Linked DNA regions of Homo sapiens. The protein of the gene in region 2 interacts with the protein of the main gene of each other region in a biochemical or structural test. Each region holds a gene or a part of one and is shown on either strand. Other genes may lie near its edges. The genes, in order: OTX2, FOXA2, GSC and LHX1.

Region 1 (7,122 bases), on a different chromosome or scaffold from region 2:
GTTCTTACATGTAGAGCTCTCACCCAATTAGAAATGCCTGACACATCATACAATAAAGTAGCACATTCCAACATAAAAAGCCAGTAACACACAGAAAGCACCAGGGCCGAGATCCTTCCAGGGGCTCCTTTGCCCTTACCATTGCAAAATGGCTAAAATTCTCAAAATAGACTATTTTCACTTTTGCTCCTGGATCCACCTTTAAAAGGAAAAGAGGAAAACCAAAACCCAAAACTAAGAGATTCTCTCCACAACCGGCCTAGGTATGCACTCTGCATAGAAGGCATGGGCCCTTCAATCTAACTTTCAAAGCTCTTTTCCTCTCGAAGCAGGGTCCAGAACGGGGAAAAGAAATAACTTTTGAAAAATCCACGCCTCACTATGACTGCTCACGAGGTGGCCTCTGGAGAACTCATACCTAGAAGCTGACCGCGGTCGCGCGGCGAGTTCCGGCAGCCGGTCGGCGACCGCACCTCCGGGCGCGAGTGCCTGGGTCCCGCGTTCCTGCCCGGCAGCCCCGCAGCCCCGCAGCCCCGCAGCCCCGCAGCCCCGCAGGCCTGGCGCCCGAGGTCCCGCTCCACTGCCCGCGCCCCCCGCGCAGCCTTATATCTAACGGTCAATTCGTGCAATCTGTCGCTTCTCCCTCCCCCACGCCTTGTTTTTTTTTTCTTCCAAGAAGCCCATCTACCAGTTGCTGTGTCCTCGCTCAACAATAATTACCTCGTCCGAGAATTAATTATAATAAATGTTTTCTTGATAAACTAACGAGATAATCCGAGGGGCACACGTCCCTTAATTACAGGCCGCCATGCTCCTCTCTGCTTCTCGTCCGGGCTGATTAATTTTCTGCATGATGGAAAGGAAACAAAACTACGCGGACTGGCGACTGGCCTGCGGCTGGGAAGACGACGAAGAGGAGGAAAGAAAGAAAAAGGAGACGTGTGGGCACCGCGGAAAACGGCCGGCGCTGGCCTCTCTCCGGCGAACTCGAGTGAAAGTTTCTGGCCTCGGGGAATCAAATAACTCTGCCACCCGCGAGGGAGGGAGGAAGAAACGTGCCAAAAGGGTTGGCCTTGACTATTAATTATCGTTGGGAGAAAGCCCCGGTGTTAGCGCTGAGGTCTGGGTGTCTACCTTACTCTGGGGGGAGGAGTTCCCTCTCCTACTCCCCTCTGTTGCTAATAACTTTTGGTGCCTGTAAAAAGTCCCGAGCTGAGCAGGAGAAATCCTGACCCCGAAGCTCTAGGATGGAGGGGAGAATTTCTAGGAGCGACTTCCCCGTCCCCTCCCCAAGCAATCCACCACCGCAGGGTCGGCGCCGCTCGGCCTTCGCTCCCCGCGCACCAGTTCTATCTGTGAAGGAAGCAAAAGCCAACTCGGTGGAATCCTGACAGGGGACTTGGGTTTCCAAAAATATGTCCCGAAATCGGGCATCGATTTCAAGAGTCACTTGAACGCAACAACGCGAAGACTTCTTGGGAGTTTGCAGAGCGACCCGTCGCCCGCGCCCGGCGCTGGCAGGGACCTTCGGATGGTTCTTACTGGGCCGATCCATGGCACAGGCTGGGCCTCGGCGAACCCCTCGGCCCCCGCCCGGCCCCGAGCCACGACACCTCATTGTCCTGGAGCCTGGGAAGGGGGTGCGCGAGCGCGCGGGCGAGCCCTGCCTCTCCCCGCCAGAGAACAGCTGAGGGGCCGCGGTCCCAGCGGGAGGATTCCGGTCCCTGGCCCGGCCGCGGCCTTGGGCGGAGCAGGGGCCACTAGCTGCCACTTCTGCCCGCCCCAGGTGCGCGCGGAGGGCTACGTGGGGCGGGCCGCGACCCGGCAAAGTCATGTTGAAAAAACACTCTTCACGTTCGCTCGGCCTGGTGACCAGGGTCGGGGACCACGACAACCGGGGGTTGGGAGGCTGCGTAATTACAACCCAGGGTGGTTTGGATTTTGGGGGGTGGTGGATATTTAAAAACAAAAAGGAGATCTGGAAGCTTTTGGGAGAAACAGACAACCGAGCTGTGCTAGGCTGAGGGAGAGGAGGCCAAAGAGAGCGAGCAGTGAGCGCCGGGGCGGACGAGAAGCCAGCGCTCCCAGCCTCCTCGGTTATCCGCTCCGGTTTCCGCTCACGTTCAACAGGGGCCGACAGGGGCTCGAGCGGCGGCCCCCGGCCCAGGCCGACCCGCAAGCGAACCGAGCTTCCGGCGCGCGGGCCCAAGGAGGCGCCTGGCTTTTTATTATTGTTGTTTCAATCCATCCATCTAGTTACATCTGCATCTTTTTGTCTCGGACTCTAAAAAGGTCCCTGGGATCCATCCAAACGACCCCAACCAAATCTGGGGGCCAAAACGCAAAGATCGCGGGAGAAGCCCAGAACGGCGTTGACATAAAAACAAAACCACAAACAAAACCTTCCAAAACACCCCAGATTACATTCGCAGCGTTTCGACGACGTTTTGCAGAAGCGACGACCCCCAGGAGCACGCTCTCTGCCTCTCTCCCACTACCGCTCTCATCTCTAGATCACATTTTTCTTTTTGCAACGATCGTTATTACACCTCAAAATTTGTAAGAGAAAAAATACATCCGCCTACAGAACTCCACGTTCGCAGAGGGGCATCGGTCGGTCTATTGGAGGTACTGGGGTGATGGCCGACAGACACGGGGACACGTAGATATGGATATAGACAAGACAGACGGACACTTACCTTACAGCCTCATGGGAGGTTAGAAAAAGTCAAATATCCTTTAAATTCCAAATAGCCAGCTATCCTAAAAGAAATCAAGAGTATTGAGTTAGAAACCTTGCAGTCTTCACCCTTCCATGAAAAGTCAAACACAACCAAAAAAAATTTTTTTTAAAGAACGAAAATGAGGAAGGCGGCTAGAGTTCTAAACACGCGTGGGCCCCTCTGCAATACATACAAAGTAGATGTGGCGAGTGAGGGCTGCTCTAGCAATTTTTATTTTTAATCACAGTGGAGGCTGTGTTGGAGCTGAGGCCGGTCCCGCTCTCAGGGAGATTTGCTGAGAAAGCGCCTCTCTGGCAACTTTTTGACGCAAACTCTCCAACCAATGGCAGGGAGAGAATGATTGACACATCTAAGCCAGAGGGAAAATAATAAAAACACACAACAGGGGGAGGAAAACAGGCCGCTGCTGCACGGGGGGACGAGCAGGCAACAAATCCAGGCCTCCGACATTACCAGAATGTTCTTTAAAGACACTGGGCTTTGCTTAAAATATACATTATGGGCCGGAGCATGTGAACTAATTGTATAATTAAAATGATGGACAGGGAGTTCTTCTCTTACCCTCTTTTCCCCTGCTTCCTTTACTCCGAAATTTCCTTTCCTCTCTTTTTTTTTTTTTTTTTTTTGTTGTTGTTGTTTTTAGGGAAGGGAAGAAAGGAAACCCATGCAATGTAAGATGGAAGATAAAAATATTTAAGTAAATGCTGGAGAATGGCGGGTTAGGGAGTGACTGGGTTATCACATTCAACCCCAGCAATAAGTGTGTGGATGACAGGCAGAAAGCAAGTCAGACTGAAACTCAAAAACACCACTATGCCGTCTCAGACAGGGCCAGAGCACGCTGACGGCCAGAAAGGGTAAAGGAGGGAGGCCTGGGAGTGCGATGTGGGCATGTAGGGAAAACAGAGAGAGAAAGATACACAAGTCCAAGAACAAACTATTTTCTAAAACTCAGTGTCTTCTCTATTCCCTACGCCCTTATAAATATCCTTACACATATAAATAAATGATCCCCGAGTGAGAGACCCCGGCTTCTGGTAGGTTCCTGGGGTTTTTTGGAATTGAGAAGCCCACGACAGACTGCAGGGAACACGAACCCCGGAATCTAATCTCAGGGCCCATTTAGGAGAAGTAGCTGGGACCACATCGGGCCTCGAGGATGCGAGTGTGAGGTCGACAAGATATCGTGGAAGAGAGCGAACGAGGGAGGCCCCCGTTGGAAACAGTTTCTGTGTTAGAACAAACGCCACCAAACGACCGACACTGCGAGGCCTGGAGCTACCTGGGCTGGCGCCGCCCGAGCCCCGGGCTGCGAGCCCAGAGGCTGGGAAGTGATGGGACCTGGGGGCCCGAGCCGGAGAGTGCGACCCCCAGCCCAACTTTTTTGCCTGGCATAGAAAGCAGGGACCGGACAGGTTTCAAACGGATCCGAGTCCCTAGAAAAGCAAAAACAGACTGGGCGGAGTGTGGGGTGGGGGGTGGCTAGTGGAACTGGTGAGTGTGTGTGAATAAGCTGGGTGGGGGTGGGAGCAGAAGACAGCTCTTGCTTCACAACACCCAGTGCAGGAAAAGAAAAATAAAATCTCTTCCTAAATACCCCACCCCCCGCCACCCACCCACCACCAACTACCATCACCACCACGGCCAGTGGGCCCAAAGAAACAGCTCGCTGCCTTTAATTTGGGGACCTATGTTAATGAAGTTGGTAATTAATTCGTCGCTTTGTTGTCGGTTCTTATACTGTATGTGTACTCAAATGTGGCCGTCCTTGGGATTTACAGCAATTAACGAATTACGGGAGTGCGCACGAGGCAGCAAGCTCTCGGCAGCCGGGCTCCGGCTCGGGCTCGGCCTGGGGCTGGGGACTCCGCGGCAGCGGCCCCTGTCACAGGTGTCCCTAGAGCTTTGGGCCCTGGCGGCCCCTCGAGCCCCCGAGGGGCCCGGAGCCCGCCCAGCTCCTTCCCGGCCCTCTGCAGCAGCTCCAGTCCGGAGACCCGCTGGCTGTCGCGTTCCCAGGAGTCAAGAGTTTCTAGGGGCCCGGGCGGGGGGGAGGGTGAGTACCGACCTTTTTTCTCACCCCACCCCCACTGTACTGAAACACCTGGCGGCCGCCCCCGAAGCCTTTAATGGGGATGGTGGTGAGGAGGGGGTAACAAATGCCCCGGGCGTTATGACCCTCGTGGCGCTGGCTGTCGGAGGCACTGGTTGGGTGCGCTTGGTCAGAGTCATGATGCTTTCGATGAAGGAAAGGCAAATCCACCTCGATCACCTGAAGCAGAGTCTCCTTCCTACCCCTAGAAAAGACAACGTTTCCCCCAGTTTGATCACAATGATGTTTAAAGCATAAAAGAGCCGAAAAAGAAAAATGGACGTTGTGAATCTGGCAGAGGGGAAGGCCGGAGGAAGGCCTTGGGGACAGTGGGCATGGGGTGGGATGGAGAATGATCAGAACATGCGCTTGTGAGCTAAACCAAGTAAACCATTTTGGACTGGGAGATCCATCTGCCGTAGGGTCCAGTGTCCAGGGTAACCTTTCAAGCCCGATGTAGAGGTTTGCGATGTCCTCCCAGATGGCGGGGGCAGCTGAATCTCCCTAAAAATCCCCCTGTTCTATTCGACAGGGGCAGATTTATGCATGGTGGGGCGTGAGAGGGTTTTGCCCTTCCAGCGGCCGGCAGCAGACAGCTCCCGCTTCTCCTTTGCCCTCTAGTCTAATAACTTCGCAGAAATACAGGGCCAATAAACTACGAGTTGGAAATGGACAGTGTTAAATAAACAAGGGTCTCTTTAAAATTCTCATCCACTTCAGATGTCTAAAGTAAGATTGTGATGATTTTGTCACGGTTTGGTAAATTTACCCCTTTAAGAGGCTTTCATAAATCCCAGAACACACCTTCAGCCAGATTTGAATATAGATTTAGGTTTTAAAACCCAGAAGCTGGAAACACCGCTTTATCAAAGAGAATTTCCCTTTAGCTTAGCAATGTGCTGAAGCTCTTAAAAGATTGGATCTGAGAGAGAGAGACAGAGAGGAGAAAGAGAACTAGAGACAGAGAGAGGCAGACAAGGAAGGGGGGGGGGGGTGAAAGACTTTCTTTTTCTTTCTAGAGGAATTCTGCCCAGACTCTGCAGCAGTTGGTAGCAGGCAAGCTTTCTCCTGGGTGTCGCCTTGAAAAGTTGCAAAATTGCTCTTCACCTGTAAGAACATGCTCTTTATCTTCCAGTCTCTTCTTGTCAATTTGGAAATTGCAGACTGCCCGGCTCAGGTACAGTCCCCACAAACCCTATTCTAGGTCAGGACAAAAGCCACTGGCTTTGGGGGAAGGGGGCTGGGCTCTTTTACTGAAAACCTTAGATGCTTGGTGGGAGAAAAAGACTCTTTGGATGAAAAGTCTAACTCTTGATTTTCAGTAAGTTCTTGAACTTCCAATTTACCTAGTATCTGTTCATTGTATTTCTGTGTTTAACTTTTTTTCTGTGTCCTGTGTCGTTAACATTTTTTTTCTATGAATCTGACTTATGGTAGCATGCTTTGTGTTTTTAAATAATTTTCATTAAAAAGTGGATGGTTTTTAATTGCCACTTGTACAATTATTTTGCTACGCATATGAGATATAAGCATTCAGAAGCTAAATTAAGAAAGCCAATACGAAGGGAATCAAATTATTTGTCAGAGCTTGTGTGCAGTTTCTAGAATATGTCTAATATGCATATTTTGAAATCAAGATTCATGTGTGGCACTAACTAGGCTCAATTTCTCCACCGCACAAGCCAGGCCAGTTTAAAATATTCCAAACTTTCCTCCAAGTTTATTAACTTTGGTGGGGGGAGTGGGGGAGGGGGAGGGGAGAGAAGACATCCCGGGATTCTTCCAGGCTAATTAAAAAAGAAGAACAAAACCCATATTCCGTGAGAACATAGCCTTTTGGGGGAAAGGAGCCAGTTAGACTTCCTTAACACTGAATTCAGAAATATGAACATTAATTTCCAATCTTTTCAGCAATTCACTGGACAGTGAGGGACTACATTTTGCCTTAGAAGCACCATAATACCTAGAAAGAAGTCATTTTTTCATTAGGTTTTTAGATATATCTTTATTATAAACTTTGAGGAGATTAACCTTAATTTTTTTAACAAGGATTTAAGACTGGAAATGCAGACAAAATTTAGGGGAAAAAATAAGGCAACAGATCACTTATAAATTAAGCTTGGGTCTCTCACTCCCTGCATTGCGGTTGCCTCAAAAAAGAGGGTAAGGGAGAAAGAAACAACTTCAAAGATAGGATTGGGCTGTCTCGATAAAAGAGTAGGGAGGCAAACTCCAAATGCGAAAAAGAGGAAAAGAGGACCATGTTGTTCCGGAATGAAACGGATTAAG
Region 2 (7,262 bases):
TCTACACAGTAGTGGAAACCGGAGGCTTTTTTTTAACTTTATATTCTTTCCCGTTTTCCTCCTTATATAGAACGTGGGGTATCTGTGTGGCCCTCTGTTTGGGACGGAACGGCTGCAGCGGGTGAAGAAGACTGCTGTCTTGGGGGTGTTGGGGTGGGGGTGTTATGGATTTCTTCTCCCTTGCGTCTCTGCAACACCGTCTCCCCAAAGTCTCGACCCCCACTTGCTCTCTCACTTGTCCTCGATCCGGGGTGCCAGAGTTAGCCGGGCCTGAAGCCGTCGTCTTCTTAAGAGGAGTTCATAATGGGCCGGGAGTACACCCCCTGGTAGTAGGAGGTATCTGCGGCCAGGGGCGAGGCGTCCAGGCCCGTTTTGTTCGTGACCGGGCCCATGGCCAAGCTGCCAGGCATGGGGGAACCGTAGCCGGGGTAGTGCATCACCTGTTCGTAGGCCTTGAGGTCCATTTTGTGGGGTTGGTGGTGGTGGTGGCTGTGGTGGTGCTGCTGCTCCGAGGACATGAGGTTGTTGATGGAGAACGGGTGGTTGAAGGCGTAGTGGTGTTCCGGCTTCAGGTGGGCCTCAGGCGGCAGGCCCGGGTGGTGGGGCGGGCCCAGCAGGTGGGCCGCGGCCTGCTGCTGCTGCCCGGGAGAGGGCGCCGGCTCTGGGGGGCTCAGCGCCGCAGCCGGCGTCCCCTTCAGCTCTCCCAGGCCCCCTCGCTTGTGCTCCTGGCACGGGGAGGCGCTCGAGTGAGGCGACTCGGTGCCCGCCGGAGTCTCGGAGGCCGGCCCGGCGGCCTCCCCGAGTTGAGCCTGTGAGGCCTGGGCTCCGGCGGCCGCCTTCTTGCCGCTGCCGGCGGCGCCTGCGGCCTCCTTCAGCGCCAGCTGCTTCTCGCACTTGAAGCGCTTCTGGCGGCGCAGGTAGCAGCCGTTCTCGAACATGTTGCCCGAGTCAGGGTGCAGGGTCCAGAAGGAGCCCTTGCCGGGCTTGTCGGGCGAGCGGGGCACCTTCAGGAAACAGTCGTTGAAGGAGAGCGAGTGGCGGATGGAGTTCTGCCAGCGCTGCTGGTTCTGCCGGTAGAAGGGGAAGAGGTCCATGATCCACTGGTAGATCTCGCTCAGCGTCAGCATCTTGTTGGGGCTCTGCTGGATGGCCATGGTGATGAGCGAGATGTACGAGTAGGGCGGCTTTGCGTGCGTGTAGCTGCGCCTGTAGGTCTTGGGGTCGCGGGCGCGGCTCAGGCCCGCCTGCCCGTACATGGGGCTCATGGAGTTCATGTTGGCGTAGGGGGCCAGGCCGCCCATGGCCCCGGCCGCCTGCCCCCCGAGCGGGCTCAGGCTGGGACTCAAGTGCGGCCCCATGCCCGCCACGCCGGCCGCCCCGGCCGAGCCGCCCATGCCCGCCATGGCGCCCGCGCCGGGGGACATCCCCGCCAGGGACGGGCTCATGCCAGCGCCCACGTACGACGACATGTTCATGGAGCCCGCGCTCATGTTGCCCGAGCCGCTGCCCATGGCGGCCGCCGACATGCTCATGTACGTGTTCATGCCGTTCATCCCCAGGCCGGCGTTCATGTTGCTCACGGAGGAGTAGCCCTGCGGACAGAGCCCCGGGAGGGAGGCGACAGCGTTAGCACCGCGGCTGGAGGGTGCCCAGACCTCCCACCCACCGCCCAGGCCTCCGCGTCCGGGGAGGCCTCCGGGGAGCCCTTTCGTCCCCGATGGCCCAGTCTCCGGACTCCGAGTCTGTTTCATTCAGGGAGAGTCATGATCGATCGCCCTTGGGAAGGTGGCGAGCGGATTGCTGCTTGGGCATGTGGCCCGTTCCTAGCCCTTCTCCACCTCGCCCAGATTCTAGAACAGGGGTCCCATGGAGTACTCCCAAGCCAGCACCCCAAATACATTCCCCTACCCCAGAGTCTCCCCAAACTCTCCCACCAGCATACTGAGCTGGCGCCGAGGCCCGAAGTCCCCGGACGCCACCTCCGGTCGCAGCAAGCAACCTGCGGGACAACGCGCGGGGCGCCTCGGGCTGCCTCCAGCGAAGACTGTCCCGGGCCCCCTCTGTCCGGTCTCCCTCCAGGGACCCCCTCCCTTGTCCCAGGGAAACTGCAAGGCAGTGCCTGTGCGGAGTGCGGGGGCGGCTGGAGGCACTGAACGGGGCAATAGGGAAAGAACCGAGACCTGAACCACACGCGGCTGAGCTTTGCAGGCAAAAACTTTCTTTCTCTTTGTCCACTAGTCTTTGACTCTGCCTCCACTTCAGCCCCCAACTCCTACCCATCTTCTCCTCCTCAGCTCCCCACCCCCTCGCCGGCCGACCTCCCACCCCTCCCCAGCCGCGCGCTGCCAAACATAACTCTGTTAGGATAGTGCGTGGCTCGGCCACGAAGAGGATTTGGAGGCGCCGCAAGTCAATATTTGATCACAAAGTTAATATTATCTCAAGGCTAACAGTGTGTCGTATAAAAAAGAGACCCATTTGATTCCAAGGAGGGCGGAAAAGGCGGCTGCCCAGAAAGGCTGGGGTTGTGGGGCGGGGTGGGGGGGTGCCAGCGAGGGAAGCGGTCCTGAGGTTGGGGAAGGAGCGAGCGCCGCCGCTCCACTTCCCCCTGGAAAAGACGAGCGCTTACCTCGGGCTCTGCATAGTAGCTGCTCCAGTCGGACGGCTCGTGCCCTTCCATCTTCACCGCTCCCAGCATACTGGAAGCCGAGTGCATGGCAGTTTAAAATTTAACAGCCACAACAAACGACCAGCAATCACCCCCCACCCCCACCCTCTTTTAAAAAAAAGTCAGCCAAAGCACCGTCCCCTCCTCCCTCCCTCTCTCGCGCTCCCTCTCCCTGGGCTCCACTCCCTCTCTCTCCCTGGGCAGGCCGGAGGCGGTAGTTGGAAGTGGGCGGGAGGTGGGGGGGGGCGAGGAGCGGAGGAGGCCCAGGCCAGCGCCCCGCGGTAGGGAGCACCCGCCGCCGCCGCGCTCACGGGCTGCCGGGTGGCGGCTGAGGTTGGCAGTGCCGAGCTGCCCCGAGGCGGCGGGAAGCGCGCGGCGCGGGGGCTAGTGGGGGGGTGGGGAGGAGGAGGAGGAAGGAGGAGGAGGAGGCGGTGGTGGTGGTGGAGGAGGAGGAGGAGGAGGAGGAGGAGGAGGAGGAGGAGGAGGTGTGGACCGCGGAGCGGACAAGTGCCGCAGTGACGTGGGAGGCTGGTGATATAGCGCGGCGCGCTGGCGCGGGCCTCCAATCCCCAGACCCGGGGCAGCCCATTTGAATAATCAGCTCACACCTAGGTGAGAGGTAGCCGCAGCCGGCGCTCCGCACCTGCCCCTCAGCGCCTGCCGTCCGCCCCACCGCCGCGGCGCCCCGCACTCCTGGGCGGGCCAGGGGAGCGGGCTGGGCGGGCGATCGGGCACGCGGGATCCCTGGTCGAGCCCCCTTTCCTCCCGGGTCCACAGCGAGTCCCCTGAGGAAGGAGGGACCTGGGAGGAAACCACCCTCTGGGGCGGCTCCGGCCTCCAGCCCCCGCCCCGTCTCATCGCGCCGGGCGCCCGGTGCGCCTGTCGGAGGGCGCGTCCAGCCTCAGTGCCCGGCAGATCCCTATGAAAGCCGGATTTATTTATGCCGGGTTTCTTCGCTCTCAGTGCTCATTCTCTGTCAAAACAGCAAGTCCATGACAGCCAATTTGCAAAGCGCTGTCCTATTTAGAAAAACTACGTACACACCTTTAACTCGCCCGCTGCTGCTCCTGCGAGGCCCCTCCCTGTTACAGTTCAGACCCGGAACGGCCTCGGGAGAAGCGCGGGGCGCACGGTCTGGCCGCCTCGGCTCTCCGACTCCTCAGACACCGGCCGCCAGGGACCCGCAGTGGGGCGGCCGGCGCCTGGCGCAAGCAGCCCCTCTAGCAGCGGCCGACGGTTGGGAGGCTGAGATTTGTCTCTGATATTCAGGCCGGCGTGTTTCAAGGTTACTTTTCAGTCACAACCGAGGTGCCCACAGCATTTCGTAACTAAAACAAACAGGGCAGGAGGTGGGGAGGGAGGGGTGAGGAGAGAAGAATCCAGGAATCAATGATGGGGCATATGGAGTTGACTTCAAGAGCGTCTCTGTCCTCTCTGTCTTCCAGAGGGACTGCTTAATAGAAATTAGAAACTCCAGCAATCGTATACTTTTATTTCCCCAGCAGCTCTTGGGTTCAAAAATTGTCTTCTGTTCTGGGTTAGCCTGTGAGCCCAGATTTGGAGTGGGGGGATATTGCAGGTGTTTGGATGTGGAGGCTCTTTCTTGGTTCTGAAAACCTGGCTGGACCTTGGGGATCCAGCCCTGTACCCACCCCCTCAGACACAGAGAATGCATAGGAACTAGTGGGCATCCAGCCCACCTGTCCAAAATTGGGGGCGATGGTGGCAGAAGACAGGCGAGATGGCAGACACGGAGCTTCGCATTGAAGCTTGAGTAAGGGTGAGGCTGGAAGGCAAGCGAGGAGGTAGCAGTAGGCACAGGGGAACCACTTCCCTAACCCCAGGACTCTCAGGTCTGCACGGTTTGGGACACAGAAGGAAGCCGCCGGCAGCATCTTTTGCTGCTGAAATGCAGATGGTTTGGACACTTCATAAAGAGGGCATTAATAAGCCCGCCGAGTGAGCGCCAGGGCGGGATTCTCCCACAAATTCAAGGTCTGTATCTCCGCGGAAGCCGTGCCTATCGGTCCCCCGAGTGCTGAAGGCTCCCACGAGGGGCAGGCCAGCCCGGTGCGCCAGGGAAGGAGCTTGATGGTGTGTACGGCTACGTAGTGAACGTGGAGGTGTGCGCAGCGGAGTCAGAGGGGCTAGATCCCCAGCATTTCCCACGGGGTCCCACCTAGCGCGTGGATGGGAGCAACTTCATCACTCCACCGAGGGCAGGGAAAGAGGAGTAAGCATTGGAGCTCAAAGAATGAGCAATTTTTCAAAGCTTTCTCCGCAGGCCTGGGCAGACACACACGCACACACACACACACCGCACCCCCAAAACTCAAAAGAATGTTATGGTTGACCTAGTCTGTGCGTGTGCTGTATGAGAGTATTTGTGAGCTTATGTGGGTGCCCACTTCCCTTTCTATTTTGCTCCTGGGTGGAAATTTGGTCCCAGAAATTATTCCAGGAACAGAAGGAGCGAGCTGGAGGGCCGCAGGAGAAGGGGGCGCTACACTTCCAAGGAGCGGACTTTGGAAGCCCCCACCTCCACCACAGCACTATTGGTGGCCGGGGTCAGGGACACCAGAGAGCGCTCGGCGGGGGCTTCCACAGTGACAGGGCGCCCCCTGTCGGCCGCCAGGCCCGCGGGACCGACCCGAGTCCTCATTTACCCCCGCGATCCCAACCCCGCAGCTCCGGCACCGGAGCACCTTCTCCCCCGCTCTCCCAGTCTCTCCGAAAACGCCTTCGGGGGGACTCGGCCTTTTTGGAGCCCCAACCCCTAGGTTCTGCGCGAACCCAAAACGGCCTCCTGCACCCTGGCGAGGTTCTGGGAGCTCCGGTAGGGTAGGGCTGGATGACGCCTCCTAGAGTCTCGGAGCAGCCGCTCCCGCACCCTCCCGGCACGCCTGCCCATGGGAATGCGAGCGGGGTCTACGGTTAGCTTTAGGTAGCTGGGAGCGGGACACCAACGGGCTGCGAAGGAAGCAGGGACGTTCAGACAGCCTGGGGTTCGCGTTCCCTTCCAGCTCAGCGGTCTTTGGAGCTCCTCCTTCCCGGAGTTCTGATTTCTAAAGGGCTATCCAGAGTTCTGGCTCAGGCTTGAATGCTGAAGATTGCTCCCGGAGTTTCTCTCCAGGAAAAAGTTCGCGGGGACCTCGGGCTGCAGATGTTTCTCCCAATCCCTCTTTAGTCTACCCTCATGTAGGGCCGAGACCTACAGAGCCCTTCCCTTTCCATTTTGTTAGGTCACCGCCGGCTTCTATAATAAAGCTGCTTTATAACTGAGGACTGTGCTTGGGGTTAGCATGCTATTTTTATTTTGGATGTTGCCTCAATGGCAAAGTCATAAGACTCGAGTTCAAATCCAGGCCTCCTCTGCTCTCCCTGGGAAGAAAACACCCAGGCCATCCAGGTCTCCTAGGCCTTCATCTTGCTGGAACAATCTGCGTTCCCCTAGCAAAAGTCCTCCCTAGAGCTCTCTTTGTCACATGAAACCAACCAGTGCAGAAGGGGCATCATTGAACAGAACTCAATTTTCCTAAGTGAGAACCCATGAAATACCTAAGGAGAAAAACAATAAAAGTCCCATTAATACTCCAATTCCTAAAACCTTTCAGAGAATAAATACCCAGGCAAGGCCTTGCTCAAAGTTCCCCAGCGTGTTTAGGGCAACATAAGGCAGATATGTAGGCAAGATGAAGGCAGAGGGGATGGAAAAGTGACAGCACAGTCTTGGGAAAGTATGCATTTTTACTTTCTTATAAACTTTTTAATTGGTAAAAAAGCAGATGTCCAAACACCCCTTATTCATTCTCTGGATGAATCTCAAGTCTCAATGAAGAAAAGGCATATCGTGTGTCAAAGATTATAATCAACATTTCACTTTCTTTGGGTGGGTTATTATTTCTGAAATGTACTGAAAAATCAGCCAGGCGCAATGGCTCATGCCTGTAATCCCAGCACTTTGGGAGGCCGGGGCGGGCGGATCACCTTAGGTCAGGAGTTCAAGACCAGCCTGACAAACATGGTGAAAACCCATCTTTATTAAAAATACGAAATTAACAGGATGTGGTGGCCCATGCCTATAATCCCAGCTACTTCGGGGGCTGAGGCAGGAGAATCGCTTGAACCCGGGAGGCAGAGGTTGCAGTAAGCTGAGATCGCACCATTGCACTCCAGCCTGGGCAACAAGAGCAAAACTCAATCTCAAAAAAAAAAAAAAAAAAAAAATTAGACCATCAAAATTTGTCTACTTGGCACTGAGCACACCTTCAAACACTTATGTTGGCTTTCAAAGTTCTTGGATGGTCAAAAGACCAGTTGTTTACGGAGAGGGCAATTGAAAAGGTCATTAGCTAAGAACACCTTATCAGAGGGTATTTATGTAAAAGAATAAAAAAATTCAGCATGTTGCAGCCTTCAGCAAAGGCTCAGGAAAATGCTGATAAAGGGGGAGGCAAGGTGCAACATTTTAAGTTTAATACTGTGTGCACCTGCATGCAATTTATCTCTCCACCGCAAGATCCACAGGAAAAGATGAAACATACATTTTTAAAATGAGAAAATAAAATGAATTAAATAAATACGATGTTAGTAA
Region 3 (6,741 bases), on a different chromosome or scaffold from region 2:
CTGGAGCATCTGTGGAAGTTCCAGGAAAGCGCTGGGGGAGGTGGCATGCCCGCTGCCTAATTCCCCCGTGGACCCGCCGCCTTAGGTTTCTCAGAAGCAGGGCTGAGCAGCTTGGAGCAGTGGGCTCCGTGGGAGCTCCCGGACTCCCCTAGCTCCCACCTCATCAGTGAGGGAAGAAGTGCTCCTTCTGCCCTCGGCAGAGGGGAGTCAGGGACCCAGGCTGCCCCTCTCAACTGCAATGGTACCTCCTCCCGGCTCTGGCCCAGCAATGCTACTCTCCAAACCTTCCTAGACATAAGGTTTCCTTTTAAACCAGGACACCCATGCTGTGACTGTTACCCAGAGCTTCATTTCTTGTTTGTTTGTTTGTTTAGGTAGATCATAGCTGCTCAGTTTTTTCCTCCGGAGGTTACGGACTACATAGACTTCTTTTCTTGGCTCCAGACTGATGGTGGTGGGTGGGTGGGGCGGGGGGTATGAAATACAGAATGTGGCCCGTCTACATCGCCATCACTTTATTGTACTGTCACCCTTAATTTAACTATAAATACTACGGTGGGGGCTAGTCGCGGGCGGCCTCGGGCTGCTGGGCTGTGCGCGCCCTGACCCCAGACGCCGACCCTCCCGGCTCTGTACACTATTTACAGCTCCTCGTTCCTCTTTCTCGACCCCCTCCCGCAAGGCAGCGCGTGTGCAAGAAAGTAGCATCGTCTGTCTGTGCAAGTCCTTCGAGTTAGGTAAGTAATACGGGCAAGTGTCCCGCGGCCGTCAGCTGTCCGAGTCCAAATCGCTTTTACCTTCCTCTTCCCTCTTCTCCGGTGACGCCTTCGACGACGACGTCTTGTTCCACTTCTCCGCGTTCTCCGACTCCTCTGATGAGGACCGCTTCTGCCGCCTCCATTTGGCGCGGCGGTTCTTAAACCAGACCTGTTGCGCAACGGAGGACAAAACAGTTCAGATCAAAGGCGCGCTTCCCCCAGTCCCGGGGCACCCGGGGAGCTTGGTGTGGCGGCGGGACACCCCGCGCAGGCCAACAAAAGGAGGGGAGCCGCTCGCTCCCGCTTCCGCGTTTTCATTCAACTTCCTGGGCCTAAAGCGCCCTCCAGCAGCCTGCGGGCCGCCATCGGGATGTTTTTAAAGTGCGGGGAGAGCCAAGCAGGGCTGGGCAAACCCGACTGGGGCCCCACCTCGCGGGGAAGGACCGCTAGGCGCCCACGGCAGGCCCCGGCGCCTACCTCCACTTTCTCCTCGCGGAGGTGCACTTTCCGGGCCAGCTGCTCGCGCGTGCCCACGTCCGGGTACTTGGTCTCCTGGAAGAGGTTCTCGAGAGCTTCGAGCTGCTCGTCAGTGAAGATGGTGCGGTGCCGCCGCTTCCGCCGACAGTGCAGCTGGTTGAGAAGCTGCAGCTCGGTGCGCGACAGCGTGCCCACGTTCATGTAGGGCAGCATCTGGTGCGGTACCGGGGACACCAGCACCGAACCGGGGCCCTCGTAGCCTGCGACAGAGTGGGGCGCACGGTCAGCCGCCCGCCCTCGCCACCGCACGCATGCACGCCCGCCAGCCCCCGACCCTCTTCCACTTAGAAGTCGTCTGCAAGGGGATGCTGAGAATTGGGGGTGCACGGGAATCAGGGGTGCAGGGAAAAGGAGGAGGCGTGTTAGAGCATCCATCCGCACACCCGCCAAAGCCAGTAAGAGAATTCAAAACAAAACAAAACAAAACAAAACCCAGTTTCCCCGGGCAGGCACTGAATTCCAGTTTTCGCGAACTCTGGCCAAAAGTTTGCAGCAAGAAGTTTGCAAACTCCTGCGCCCGATCGGCAAAAGCGGAGGGGGGAGTTGCAAGAGGAGCAAAGTTTGAGGAAGGTGAATTAACCAACCGGCTCCATGGGCTAAGGACCGCAGTGGGCGGCAGAGGCCGGAGCGAGCGCGACCCTACCTGGGGGCGTCGGGACGCAGGAGCACTGCTGGGCGCCCAGCGGCGGCACGGCCCCGCAGCAGGCCGGGCCCACGGGCGCCGCCTGCACGTGCAGCTGCCCGTAGAAGTAGTTGTTGTAGCCGAGGCGGGAGCCGCTGACCGCGGCCGGGAGGCCCGCGCCGCCGGGGGCCACGGGGCGCGGGTAGAAGGCGCCATAGTCCGAGGAGGCGCCGCCGCTGGCGCCGTAGAGCGAGTCCCCGTGCAGGGCCGGGAAGACGACGGGAGCCGCCGCGCTGTGCGCCACCGGCAACACCGAGTCCTTGCAGCGCGGCCGGGCGGCTAGGATGTTGTCGATGCTGAACATGCTGGCGGGCATCCCCGAGCCCCGCGTCGGGACCGGGGGGCGGCGGGAACGCGCCGAGGACAGAGCCTTAAAGTGGGGGGGTCCACTCTCCTCCAGCCGCCGACCAAACCGAAAGAGAGCGCCGGCGAGCGCGCAGCCCTGCGCCCCTCCCCGCCCCCTGCGTCCGCTCTCCCTCCTCCCGCCCTCCCCTAGCCGCAGCGTTCGCTGAACTCAACCCGCGGGTAGGACGGAGCTCAGACCAGCTGAACCTCTTGTTGGTTTTATACTGAGTCGACGTCATCCTGGATTTAGTTCCTGGTAATATGCAGATGACAAACAGAACCAGATTTGGCCCTTTCTTTTCCTTTGGGTGGGGGAAGAGGGTTGGGGGGAGGGGGAGAGGTGCCAAGGGGAGGGGGTTACAAGGCCTGAAAAGAGATTGTGGATTGCGAATTAATGAAATTAACCTAATCTTTTCCATTCGGCAGCCGGGCCGCGGGCCGGCCGAGCTGGGCGGGCGGCCTAATTGCCTTGGTTAATCTCATTAATTCCTTTGTGCCGCCGCAGTTAACAACTCCCTCCGCCCGAGCTCTCCACCCCCACCCTTTTTTCTCAGATTGGGTCCTATTATTGGGTGCGATTTCCTCTGCCTGTAGCTCAAATTCATTGTGGACGATTTTACTTTGGGGCTACTTTTTTCCCCCTTTCGGAATTGGTTTTGTTTTAGAAAATGTGAGGGGCTGCATCCCCTCTCAAGCAGGATTGAAAATTCCACCACTCCTCCGCGCCCCCACGTACTCACCGCCTGATTTACCTCTTTTTTAAATCTTGAGTTTCTCTCCCGAATGGAACTTGTTAACCCCCCCAAAAAACTTTTGGTTTTGTAAAATCCAAATTTTGTAAAGGCAAAAACGACTAAAGGAGGGGTGCATCGTGCTTCTTAAAAAGATTTTTTTTTCCAGCCACTCTGGGTCTGAAAACTACCATGGCAGTCCCTAGGTCCTACACAGCGAAGACCAAATTCAGCCGCTCTTTAAAATTCGCCACCAAGAGTTGCAGTCTGAAGCGGTGCTTCTAGCTGCTCCCAGCGTGGGTGTCGGTAGTTTTTGTGCTTTTAAAAAATTAGTTTTGGAAATGTGGTGCCTTCTCTCCCAAACTATTTTTTTGATTTTCAATCCAGATGGGGTCTTTGGGACTTCCCTATCTTCTTCCCCAATAATTGGGTCGCATTTTTCCTTACGACCTGCTGGCTGCCGGTAGGCCTGCCCTTCCGCCTGGCAGGCCCAGAGTGGATTCCCTGGGCCGCAGTGGCCTGGACGATGGCCGGGTCTGATAGCGGCAGGCGGCCGCGATGATTTGCGGGATTCTCGGCATGGCACGGCCAGCCTGCCCGAGCCACGGGAGGCGCAGCCAGCCCACCACTCACGGCAAGCAGGCGGCCGAGCGCCCTTCGAGAAGGTAGGCGACGGTACGCGCGGAACAAAAGCAGTCCCCCAGATCCTGTGGACCGGGTGCAAGCTCCCGGCTTGCAACTCAGGCCACTCCAGGGGAAGGGGCAGTACCCGACCCAGGCGATACCCCCGAGAGCCGGAGAGGGAGATGGGGTTGCGGGAGACCTCGGGTTTCCTGAAGGAAGTCCGCCTTTAACTCACACCTATTTTTCGCGATTTCTCTCAGGCTAATTAACCAAGGGACCCCGCAAAGTTGTCTGAAGTCGCCGCCGTAAGGCTAAGTAAGTGGGCTGCCCACTCCCCGGCTCAGGGGCAAAGGGGAAAGCCCACTTGTCAATTTCTGTTCGGGTTTCAAAGAGCCATTGCACGGAGGTTTAGTCCTGTCCGAGGGCACTACTGTGGCGGCGCGCAGAAGCGGCCCAGTGGAGCCAGGCGGCGACGTTTCTCCTCCTAGGCCTCCCAGCGTGGACCTCTGTGTCCTCACGGCCACCAGCTTGTGGCCTGAGAGTTGCTCCTTCCAGTGCTGCGCAAACTAGAGGTGGTTGTAAATGGGGATTAGGACATGACGGAGATGGGTCTCAATTTGGGGAAGTGAATAGAGTTTTCCTTTTTTTCTTTTTTAACAATAAAAACAAAGAGGGAGTGTGACCCTCCCCTTAGAGAGGTCAGGTCTAGGGTAAGAAGTGAGGCACCTTCCATCTCCCACTGACTAGGATGAAGTCTTTTTTATTGTTGTTCCGTTCTCAGAGACTTAAGTCACCATGCTCCAGGGCAGATACTCCCCCACCAATCTTTCCCAGGTTTAAAGCTACAGGGCAGTTGATGGACGACAACTAGAGGCTGCAACTTATCAGTGACTGCCTGCGTTTGTGTTGGAGGCTGGGTGTGCGCTGCGGTGCGCGTGTGAGTGGATCTTTTAAGACCTTTGTCTGAGCCGGGCAGAGGCACAAGTGCCACCTGACGCTTGGGGCAGATTCCTCGTCCTGTTCTTGCAAAGATGCCAAATCAGGAGAGTGTCAAGATTTCAACCGCAGACCTAAAAAAAGTGTCTCCATGTTTTTAAAAGTATCAGACAACCACCTCCACACACCCCTCCGTCTCCCCTTCCACCTGGAACATTGTTCTTTTTAATAACCAGGTTTAGCAAACTGCTATACTGCGCCTGTGCTTTCCTGCAGCCCTCCGCTGTACCAGCTGAGCCCTGTACAGAATCTGAGCGTCAGAGTTGCAGACCCAACCTTGCCACCTTGCAAATCATCCCTTCTCTGGAGGCCTCAGGATTTTAGTTGATCAAACCAACACCAACATTCATTGGGTCCCTTTGCAACCCTAACATTTAATGAGACTTGGTAATTGTCATCCGTTCGCCAAGGAGGTTGGGGATGAACTTGGGGGCATTTTCTTGTTTATTTTTCATTGAGACAAAGGAGTGTGCTGTCCCCACCTCCGCCCCCAGACAAGGACAGGGTTCCTACATCAGCTGGGTCTAAAATAAGGAAAAGCGAGTGCTGCCGCAGAGGGGACTTTCCGGGAAGGGGGTCACAGGAACCCCAAGGCCACACAGCTCCAGACACTCTGCCGGAGCTCTAGGGGAGCTCACCCCTGCGCGGCGGGACCTCCCCCATCGGGTTGCCCCTTCAATCTGCAGCCGCGCGGAGGCAGGCCCCGGGAAAGGCAGTCGGCGCTCGGTGCTCGCACTGCGCCTCGGCGGGCGGAAACTCACAAGTGTCCTCAACGTGCTAAACAAACCATCAGGGCCCCGCATCGCCTGGCGCAATTGGAATAACAAATGCGACGCACGCAAATTGTCCACCTCGTGTTGCTAAGCGATTGTTTGTCGGCCCCGCACGCACAGCTCAGCATGGGAGGACCGCGAGCGTCCAGAGGCAGCCGGCGAGCGCTTAGGTCGGAAATGCAGTAAACATGCCGCTGATTTTCCCTATTATCACCCAAACACGATTTCACACAAAGCAATCACCACGCAGAAGTCTATGAAAATGTGTTTGTTGAGGAGTCACTCGCCCCAGTAATAGTCCTCATTTTTAAGATATTAAAGAATAGCTCAGCGGATTCCACATGCATAAGGTCTATTTGCCGTTCGGCATCTGTCACGGCGCTTTTGCACTGCGGTCATCACTAAATTGATTCATAGAGTGTAGATTAAATTGCTTCTCTGATTTAAAACAGTGTCCAACTTTGGAGTATGCGTGTGAGTATCTTCTCCCGCCCCAAGGTATTTTTGTCAGGGAGAAAACTGTCGCCCCACTATCCTTACACCCCATTCCGCATAACTGTAAAAAAATAATGCATCTTCGACCCCAACTTCTTACGGTTCGTTTCAGGAACTTTCTTAATTCTCTCCGTCTCCTGCCCGGCCACAGAGCAGAGTTCACAATCGGATGCGTTTAAGTCGGATTTTTCGTGTCATGTGCAAAAAGCCGGTGTGTCCTTTTCAAGGTACGGAGCCCTCATCGGAGGGCGCATTAGCGGGGTCAGAGGAATTAGGAGCAATGCGCAGAGCCCCCTGCAGCCCGCGTGCTGCGCCGAGACCTCAGCCGTCCTCACTGAGCGGAATGGTTGTGTTGTTTGTATTGGGACTTTTAAAAAATCCAGTCTCAAAGCTAAGTGCTCAAACCCCGTTCCATGGCTCTGCTGCTTTCTGGAGGACATCTCCGGTAGCCCCAGGGGATTGTCCGTGTGAGGTTGGGTGGGTGGAGTAGAGCCAGAGGCGCAAATGCCTCCTGGCTAAGGGGCAGCGCGCATTAGAGCTGGGTCTCCTGCTTTCGGAGCGGAGGGCGTAAGGGAGCTTTCTAGCTGATTTTTTGCTAGAAGTTTTCCAACGCTCCAAATAAAAGCACCCGATCCCCTAAGGACGAAATAATCAAGGTGTTAGGGAAGCTCAACAGAAGAGAAGAGACGAGAAGAGAAGAGAAGAGAAGAAGGGGCTATCGAAAAATGACGTGTTCCCAAGGCCTTAGAAAAATAAATAAATAAATAAATAAATAAATAAATAGCTTGGACTTTCCGGGG
Region 4 (7,111 bases), on a different chromosome or scaffold from region 2:
TGCTCCTTGGGCTGTTCTGGAACCGAAGAGAGAGGAGGGAAATGGCTAGGGGCGGCCATCATCCTCGGGATCAATAGCAGCCGAGAGTGACTGGGCAGGCTCTGTCCATGGGCCGAGCGTCATTCTGGAACCTGGAGGGGGCGGGGGCGGGGGAAGGAAGGGAAGTGGAAGTTTGAGAGGGGCACCTTCAGGCTCCCCAAACTGCATGGCAGCTGGAGAGAGCTGACAGAACCCTCTCCAACCCGGGTTCTGACCAGGGTCCCTCTGGGGCTGATCGTCAAGGAGCTTCTCAAGAAAAGAAACCTGGACTGTGAAAGTCACCTCCTAGGCCCTCTGGGGCCGTATCCGGGGGTGCCTGGGAGGAGGGTGGAAAGGATTCTGCAGTCACCGAGCTATGGGCGAAAATGATCCCCGCGGACCCTGGTCCAGAATGTACAGGTCCTGGGCGGTGTAAGTGGCTGTGGGTCTGTGGAGGACATTGGGTAGGAAAACGCTTGCGTAGTTGAGGATGCAGACAATAAATGTGGCCGGGAAGGTGAGGAGGGAAGGTTGGTGCTCTTCGCTGAACGGAACTGGCTTAAATGCAGAGCTGAGCTGAGCGGCTTCGGAGAAGGCGAATTTAGAAAGCCTGGTCAATTTTCTCTCCATGTCCCTGCGACCGATTATGTTTTAAAACAAAAGCTCAATGGAAACGAAAACAAAACAAAACCCACCATTTGTCTAATGTGCTGTCCCCGTGGAGGAGTTAAATCTGGACTCCAAACCTAGAATCTGGAGCCAAGAGGCGCACTTTGAGTTGCGCTCCTGGCCCCCCTTGCAGAGACGCCAGGGTTGGCTCCTGCGGACCTGTTTACTGAGCCATCTGGACACCAGGACGAGCGGAGCCTGACGCCCTAGAGCGAGCGTCCTGTCCTCATCCTCAACTCTCCTGCCTCGCTGGTCCGTCTGTGGGGAGGGGCCTTCTTTCCCCTATACCTAGGTCCCAAGGTTCTTACACCCCTAAATGGATGGAGCAACCTCCTCCTGCCCACCAGAGGGAGGTGACAGGCCCTGGGTTGGGGAAGGGCCGACAGCTAGGTCCAGCTGTCGTCCGGTAGGTCCCACTGACCGCCCCACACTCCACCGTGACCCCTCTGCTTTGCATGAGAAGGAGCCCAGCTGGGACGGGGGCGGAGGCAAGCCACCCGGGACTGGGGCCACTATAGATTCCAGAAAGGGGCGGTTGGGTCGAGGGCGCTGGCGGCGAGAACCGGGACAGCTGCGGGGAGGGGAGGAGTGTGAGGACAGCAGGGCTGGACTGGCCCCCTCCCCGCAGGCCTCACGCAGCGCAGCAGGCTGGGAGGCGCCTGGGGGTCCGGGTGGAAGAAGTGGGGACCCCATGCCACACGGCTTTTGGCGCTTGCGGGGGTGCCAGAAGCCTACCGAGTACCGGTCGTCTTCCGCCGGGAAGTGCCGGGTCCGCAGGAGGAGCGCGAAGCCGAGTCCGAGCCCGCGGAGCCCGCCCCCTAGATCGCAGAACCGCCTTCTCCATCCTCTGCCCTGCCCCGCGTCGGGGTCTGGGAGCGACCGGCGGAGGCCGGCGGCGCGCCGGAGCTGACTAGTCCCCTACGCTCCTCCGGCCCGCAGCGGGGAGCCCACATGTGTATGTGCAAGAAGGTGTGGAGAAGGCGTTAGGGTCCCGGCACCCACGGGTCAGGGCAGAACGCCAACGAGTCGCACTGCGGGTCTCCGCGGCTTCGGTTTCCATGACATGGTGACGCCGGCGGCAAGGCGGGGGGCTGCCTGTGGGCCTTGAGGTTGCTGGGCGGTGCGGGCGGAGTCAGCAAAGGGGCGTTGGCAAAGCCCTAAAACCCCACGGTTCCACGGAGCGCAAGCCAGATTCTCTGAAGCAGCTTCCCCGTTCGTCCGAAGAGGGTATTCCATCTGCACAGCGGGATTCCCTGCCAGCCCAGGTTCACTGCGACTCCGCTTCCCCGAGCATTTCCCCCGTTTCAGCTTCCGTCTGGTCTGCGCATCGCGAGTGGGGTCCAAAGGCCAATTCCACAATACCAGCCAGCTCCGGAGGGACGCCCACTATCACTGCCTTCCATGCTCGGGCCAAATGAGCCTTCCTAGCACCCCCTCCCCCGAAGCACAAAAACGGGGAGCAAAAGTGGGACCGCCCAGCCCAACCACCTTCAGACTCCACTTCAGGAGAAATCCTGGTTAAGCCCACCCAGAACAGGTGTGGTCGAAACGGAATTTAGGGTTTGACTTGAGTGCTCCGAAAAACTACAGTAACTCTTCCAGGCGAAGGCACTCTAGACCAGGATCTGTCCCCCACGTGTGGGAAAATAGGCCCCTGGGGGCGGCGGTCCCGAGTTCCTAGCCAGAGCGGGATTAGGGAGTTACGGGTTCCCTGAGGAGTGAACTATGGAGGGTGTGGTTTGCTGTTGTCTGGGGAAGCCGGTGCCAACCCGAAGCCTGGACAGGGGAGGACTGGAATCCCGGCACACGCTGCCCATGCACTGCACGCCCATCTACTGCAGCCTCTTCGTGGCGTCCCGGCACCCCCCCCTCCTCCTTCCCTCTTCCCAACGCCACGACCACCACCCCCAGCCGCCGCTGGAGCCCCCGGTTTCCCGCCTAGTCGTTTGTTTTTGTACGTAAAAGGTGTCTCCGGATCACAGTTTTCTCACAACTTTCTCGCCAGGGTTGCAACTCCTCACCCGAGGCGCTTCCCGGTCCACTCCTTCCCCCGCGCCGGCGCCGCGCCTCCGGTCTCCCCGCCCCCATCAGGAAACCGCCCGAATCAACTTTGCAAGAGTGCTCTGCGGGAGACAGACACTCAGCTCGCCCAGGACCCGGACCCTGTGGACTTTGGATGGATTGGGGGAGGGGGCACAGAAAGAGGGACGGGAGGAGGGAGATTCTGCTGCTAAGAGCCTCCTCCCCCTCCAAAGATGTGCGCTGCGCTTGGGACAAACTTCCAGCTCAAGAAAGTACGGGGGGACAATGGCAACAGCCGCTGAATTGCAAAGCCCAGCAGTGCAGGGGAGCCGCCTGGGATTCCGGACCCGGCTGCACCCCAACCTTCCACAAGGCTCGGTCTTGGACTACCCCCACTCTACAGCAGAACTCTGGCCTCCGCCTGCGCCTATTCCCGCTCTCTCTCTGTCCCTCCCATCGAAACCCACGCCTTACCGGAGCAGGAGGGGGCCCAGGCACGGTGCTGCCCGCCGTCCGCGCCGCGCGGGGCCGCGGGTGCCGCCGCCACTGATCCTCTAAACGCGGTCTCCCCGCACTCTCCCGGGCCGGGGGATGCAGAATGGTTTACAGAGGGACCGCGAGGCGCTGATTGGTCGCAGGCCGCAGTGACGTCAGCGGGCGCTGCATTAAGGCGAGGGGGCTTCCAGAGCTCAGCCAACAGCCAGGAGCAGTGACCAAGCCGCCGGAGCTGGGGAGAGACGCACCGGGGCGGCGACTGGGCCAGGAGACCAGGGACTGAGGGACGCGCCCGGGGAGGGCCAGCAACGAGCCGCGGCCCGGGCGGCGACAGCGGCGGTCCGCGCCGAGCCGTTCCAGCCGCCGGCCTACTGTAGCCGCTGCGCCAGGACATTTTTTTTTAAAGCTCTCCAAGCTGCCCCCCTCCTCCCCGACTCCTCCCGCTGCAAAAGAAAAACAAAAAAAAAAAAAGGAAGGAGGCTAGAAAGGAAACCCAGATTTGCCACCACAACGAAAAAAAGAAGGGGAAAAGGAAAAGGAGAGAAAGTCGAGCGACTGTGGGGTTAGACGGAGGCAGACAGAGCGTGGGCCGAGCGATGCGGGGCTGTGCGCCCAGGCGGCCGCGAGTTGTGACTGGAGCCACGATGCACGGCCAGGCGCGGTGAGAAGCCAGCCCGTAGTGCCTCCCGAAGGAGCCCGGGCGCAGGGAGGGTCGCCCTGAGGACACGGAGGCCGCCAGGCAGGCCAAGGGCCGAGGTGACTGGGCTGGGGCGGTAGGGAAGGAGCGAGTGCGCCTGGCTGCCTCCGCACGGAGTTGTCCCTCTCTGTTTTCGATTGACACAAACACTTCTCCAAAAGCGGGGAAACCTAAGCAACAACAGCAATCAACACCAAGATCTTCCTCCTACCCTCCCCTCTTTCCCTTCTCCCGCGGTCGGCCCTCGCCCCCTCCCCCAGGCCCAGCGCGGGCGCTCGGCGCGTCCAGACCCGCGGCGCGATGCCGGCAGTTTAGGATCCAAAGCTTCTCTGCTCCTTTTGTTCTTTCCTTCCCTTTTTTAAAAAAAGAGGGGGGAAATCCCAGTGGTGGGCAGCCTGGCACGCACACAGTCGCCCTCATACCCCGACAAAAGCAGATGCACTTTGACTTCTGACAGCTCTACCTCAAGCCCCGGAGAACTCAGCGGCGCTTTCCTCGCAACCCGAGCTCGGCGAGTCGTCGTCTTCTTCTTCTCCGTTTTTATTTATTTATTTCCGTTCCCGCCGCCGTTCTCGCTGACCTTCACTCCTCCGCGGGCTCTGAGCAGAAGGGTCGCATTCTCTCCCGCCTGAGACTTCTTTTCCTCGCCCCGGGAGCTCAGGCGGCGCCGCTCCAGCCCGGGGCCCCGGGACTCCCCGGCTGCACACTTCACTGAGACGCCCCCCCAGGCCCCGATCAGCCTCGTTTCCTCCACCCTACTTTGATTTCCTGGTGCGAGTTTTGGCTTGCACGGCCGAGTGTGTGTCCTCTTTTTGGAGAGACTGGGGAGCTCGTGCCGATTGTCTTCAGGAGTCATCCCCTGGGCTCTACTTTGCCCCTCTCTCTCTCTGGGCCTCATCAGACCAAACCAAAGACCATGGTTCACTGTGCCGGCTGCAAAAGGCCCATCCTGGACCGCTTTCTCTTGAACGTGCTGGACAGGGCCTGGCACGTCAAGTGCGTCCAGTGCTGTGAATGTAAATGCAACCTGACCGAGAAGTGCTTCTCCAGGGAAGGCAAACTCTACTGCAAGAACGACTTCTTCCGGTGAGTACTTTCCTCCCACGCCTCTGCTGCTACCTCCCCGCGGGCCCTTCCCGGCCAGCTTCGGATCAGAGGTTAGCGTGGCCTCGCTGCCCAGTTAGGAACTGCTTCTAGAGAGGGCAGCCAAGTCCCGCGGGCGCCCGCCTCTCCGCCAGCTGGCGCGCTGGGAGCCCGGGACGCGGCCCTGCTTGCATCCTGGAAACTATGGGTCTGGGTTTGGCTGCATGTGCCTGGGAAGAAAGGGTCTGAGCCTGACTCGGCCCAGAAGCCCCTTCAAGCTTGGAAGAGACAGGGCAGCCTCGGGCGTTGTAGCCCGGACTGCTGTCTTTCCCGGAGCCAAGCTCTGCAGCAACTGCATTCTCCAGGCCTTCGGGGTTGTTTGCCCTCCAGGCAGAGCCCAGGCTCCCTCCCGGCCACTACCTTTTCCGACCCCGAGCGGTCTTGGCGGTAAGCTCCGAGCCTTTTGCGTAGAGTGTCTGGGCCAACTGCCCTGTCAGCGGCAGGAAAGAACTCGGCCTTAAAGCCGATCCTGCACGCCCGGGGGTCTTCCCCAAACCCGGACATGCCTCCGAGTGCAGACCTGGACAAACTGCTGCACTGTAGCCTGCGAAGTGCCCGGAGCTTTTTCCTGCTTCCCTGGCTGCCGAAGTTGTCTGGTGGTTCGGCTTCAGCCCCAGGTGACTCCGACTCCCACGGGCTCCGCTCAGTAGTCCTCCTAGGAAACTGCCAGCCACAGCCAGCAACCTCCTTGATGAAACCTGGGGGAAAGCCGAGACCTCCAGCTTGCTGGTGGGGAGACTTCTCCCTACCCCCCTTATTCGTTTAGCATTTTAATTATATTATCGTACACTCACAATTTTGCCGCTCCATTCACACAAACACACAAGTCAACAGAGAAGAACGGGCACAAATGCGAATTGTAATTCCACCCTACGGATGTGAAATATCGCAATTTACTCGGCTGACTTGGTCTCTGCTTTTCTGAGTTTGTGGTCATAGTTCAAACCAGGGAGCAGGAGGAAGAGGGATTCAAAGCCACTCAGAGGGCCAAGACGCGCTGTCCCCAGTGCCGCTCCAGGACTCGTGGCTGGGGTTGGGTTGCGTGGAACCATGAAGCAAAGCTCCGTGCTCGCTGGTATTTCGGGAGAACGCGCAGGCTGAGCCTCTGAGCCTCCGCGGGCTGCCCGGTTTTCCTCAAGGACTGGATCATAGCGGGAGGGTGGCAAACCGTACTCGTACCCGCTGCCAGTGGGTCCCTGAGCCTGGCTTCCACAACCCGCGGCAGAGCGCCCAGAGCCAGCTCCCGCAGCTCCCGCTTTTGCCAACCTGTCCCGCTTTAGGCAAGAGCGTGGCGGCGGCCCCGCTAAGGCTACGGAGGGGGGCTCTCCGCGGCTATGTTTGTTTACCAACAGCGGGGCTAGACATCGCCAACCCCATGCCTATGTGCGGGTCCTTTTGCGATGAAGGAGAGAAAAGCGGCGCTCCGCGCACGTTTATATAGAGTTCTAATTGTAATTCGACTTTTCTGAATCTAATCGGAAAATAAGTGCCCCGTTCCCCCCGCCCACACAGGTCACTGCCTTGCCACCTTCTTTAGACGATGCATCTTTCCTCTGGGATAACGCTGGGAGTGAGGCTGGGGCTTGGCGGGTAGCTTGGGCCCCTGGCTCTAACCGCGTGTATCCCCTCCCTAACTCTTCCCTGGTGCCGCGCTCTCTCTCCTGCTGCCTCCTCACCTGCTTAACCGGAATTCTGCCTCTCTTTATCTCTCTCTTCCCTTCTTTCTGTGCTCCATTCCTCCTCTCCTACTTCCTCCACTTTTTACATCTTCCCTCTTTCTCGCTGTCATCTTTCTCTCCGCCTGTCTCCCCTTGCCCCTGGCTGACCCATCCCCGCCCCCGCCCCCCACCCCCACCCCCCCGCAGGTGTTTCGGTACCAAATGCGCAGGCTGCGCTCAGGGCATCTCCCCTAGCGACCTGGTGCGGAGAGCGCGGAGCAAAGTGTTTCACCTGAACTGCTTCACCTGCATGATGTGTAACAAGCAGCTCTCCACTGGCGAGGAACTCTACATCATCGACGAGAATAAGTTCGTCTGCAAAGAGGATTACCTAAGTAACAGCAGTGTT

What was found.
Region 1: the proteins of FOXA2 (region 2) and OTX2 form a complex in vitro, tested with the Homo sapiens proteins (2 studies listed by BioGRID).
Region 3: the proteins of FOXA2 (region 2) and GSC form a complex in vitro, tested with the Homo sapiens proteins (one study listed by BioGRID).
Region 4: the proteins of FOXA2 (region 2) and LHX1 form a complex in vitro, tested with the Homo sapiens proteins (one study listed by BioGRID).

Annotation. Positions count from the first base shown.
Region 1 is NC_000014.9:56,807,460-56,814,581, forward strand, and holds the start of OTX2 (homeobox protein OTX2), read right to left. Parts: upstream 3,021-7,122; 5' UTR 2,917-3,020; exon of another isoform or gene 2,764-2,916; 5' UTR 2,700-2,763; intron 1-2,699. UniProt on the Homo sapiens protein: Transcription factor probably involved in the development of the brain and the sense organs. Can bind to the bicoid/BCD target sequence (BTS): 5'-TCTAATCCC-3'.
Region 2 is NC_000020.11:22,581,563-22,588,824, forward strand, and holds the start of FOXA2 (hepatocyte nuclear factor 3-beta), read right to left. Parts: upstream 3,011-7,262; 5' UTR 2,717-3,010; coding exon 2,630-2,716; exon of another isoform or gene 2,181-2,629; intron 1,593-2,180; coding exon 288-1,592; 3' UTR 1-287. UniProt on the Homo sapiens protein: Transcription factor that is involved in embryonic development, establishment of tissue-specific gene expression and regulation of gene expression in differentiated tissues.
Region 3 is NC_000014.9:94,767,723-94,774,463, forward strand, and holds GSC (homeobox protein goosecoid), read right to left. Parts: upstream 2,392-6,741; 5' UTR 2,294-2,391; coding exon 1,939-2,293; intron 1,496-1,938; coding exon 1,236-1,495; intron 928-1,235; coding exon 769-927; 3' UTR 501-768; downstream 1-500. UniProt on the Homo sapiens protein: Regulates chordin (CHRD). May play a role in spatial programing within discrete embryonic fields or lineage compartments during organogenesis.
Region 4 is NC_000017.11:36,933,381-36,940,491, forward strand, and holds the start of LHX1 (LIM/homeobox protein Lhx1), read left to right. Parts: upstream 1-4,094; 5' UTR 4,095-4,817; coding exon 4,818-4,987; intron 4,988-6,909; coding exon 6,910-7,111. UniProt on the Homo sapiens protein: Potential transcription factor. May play a role in early mesoderm formation and later in lateral mesoderm differentiation and neurogenesis.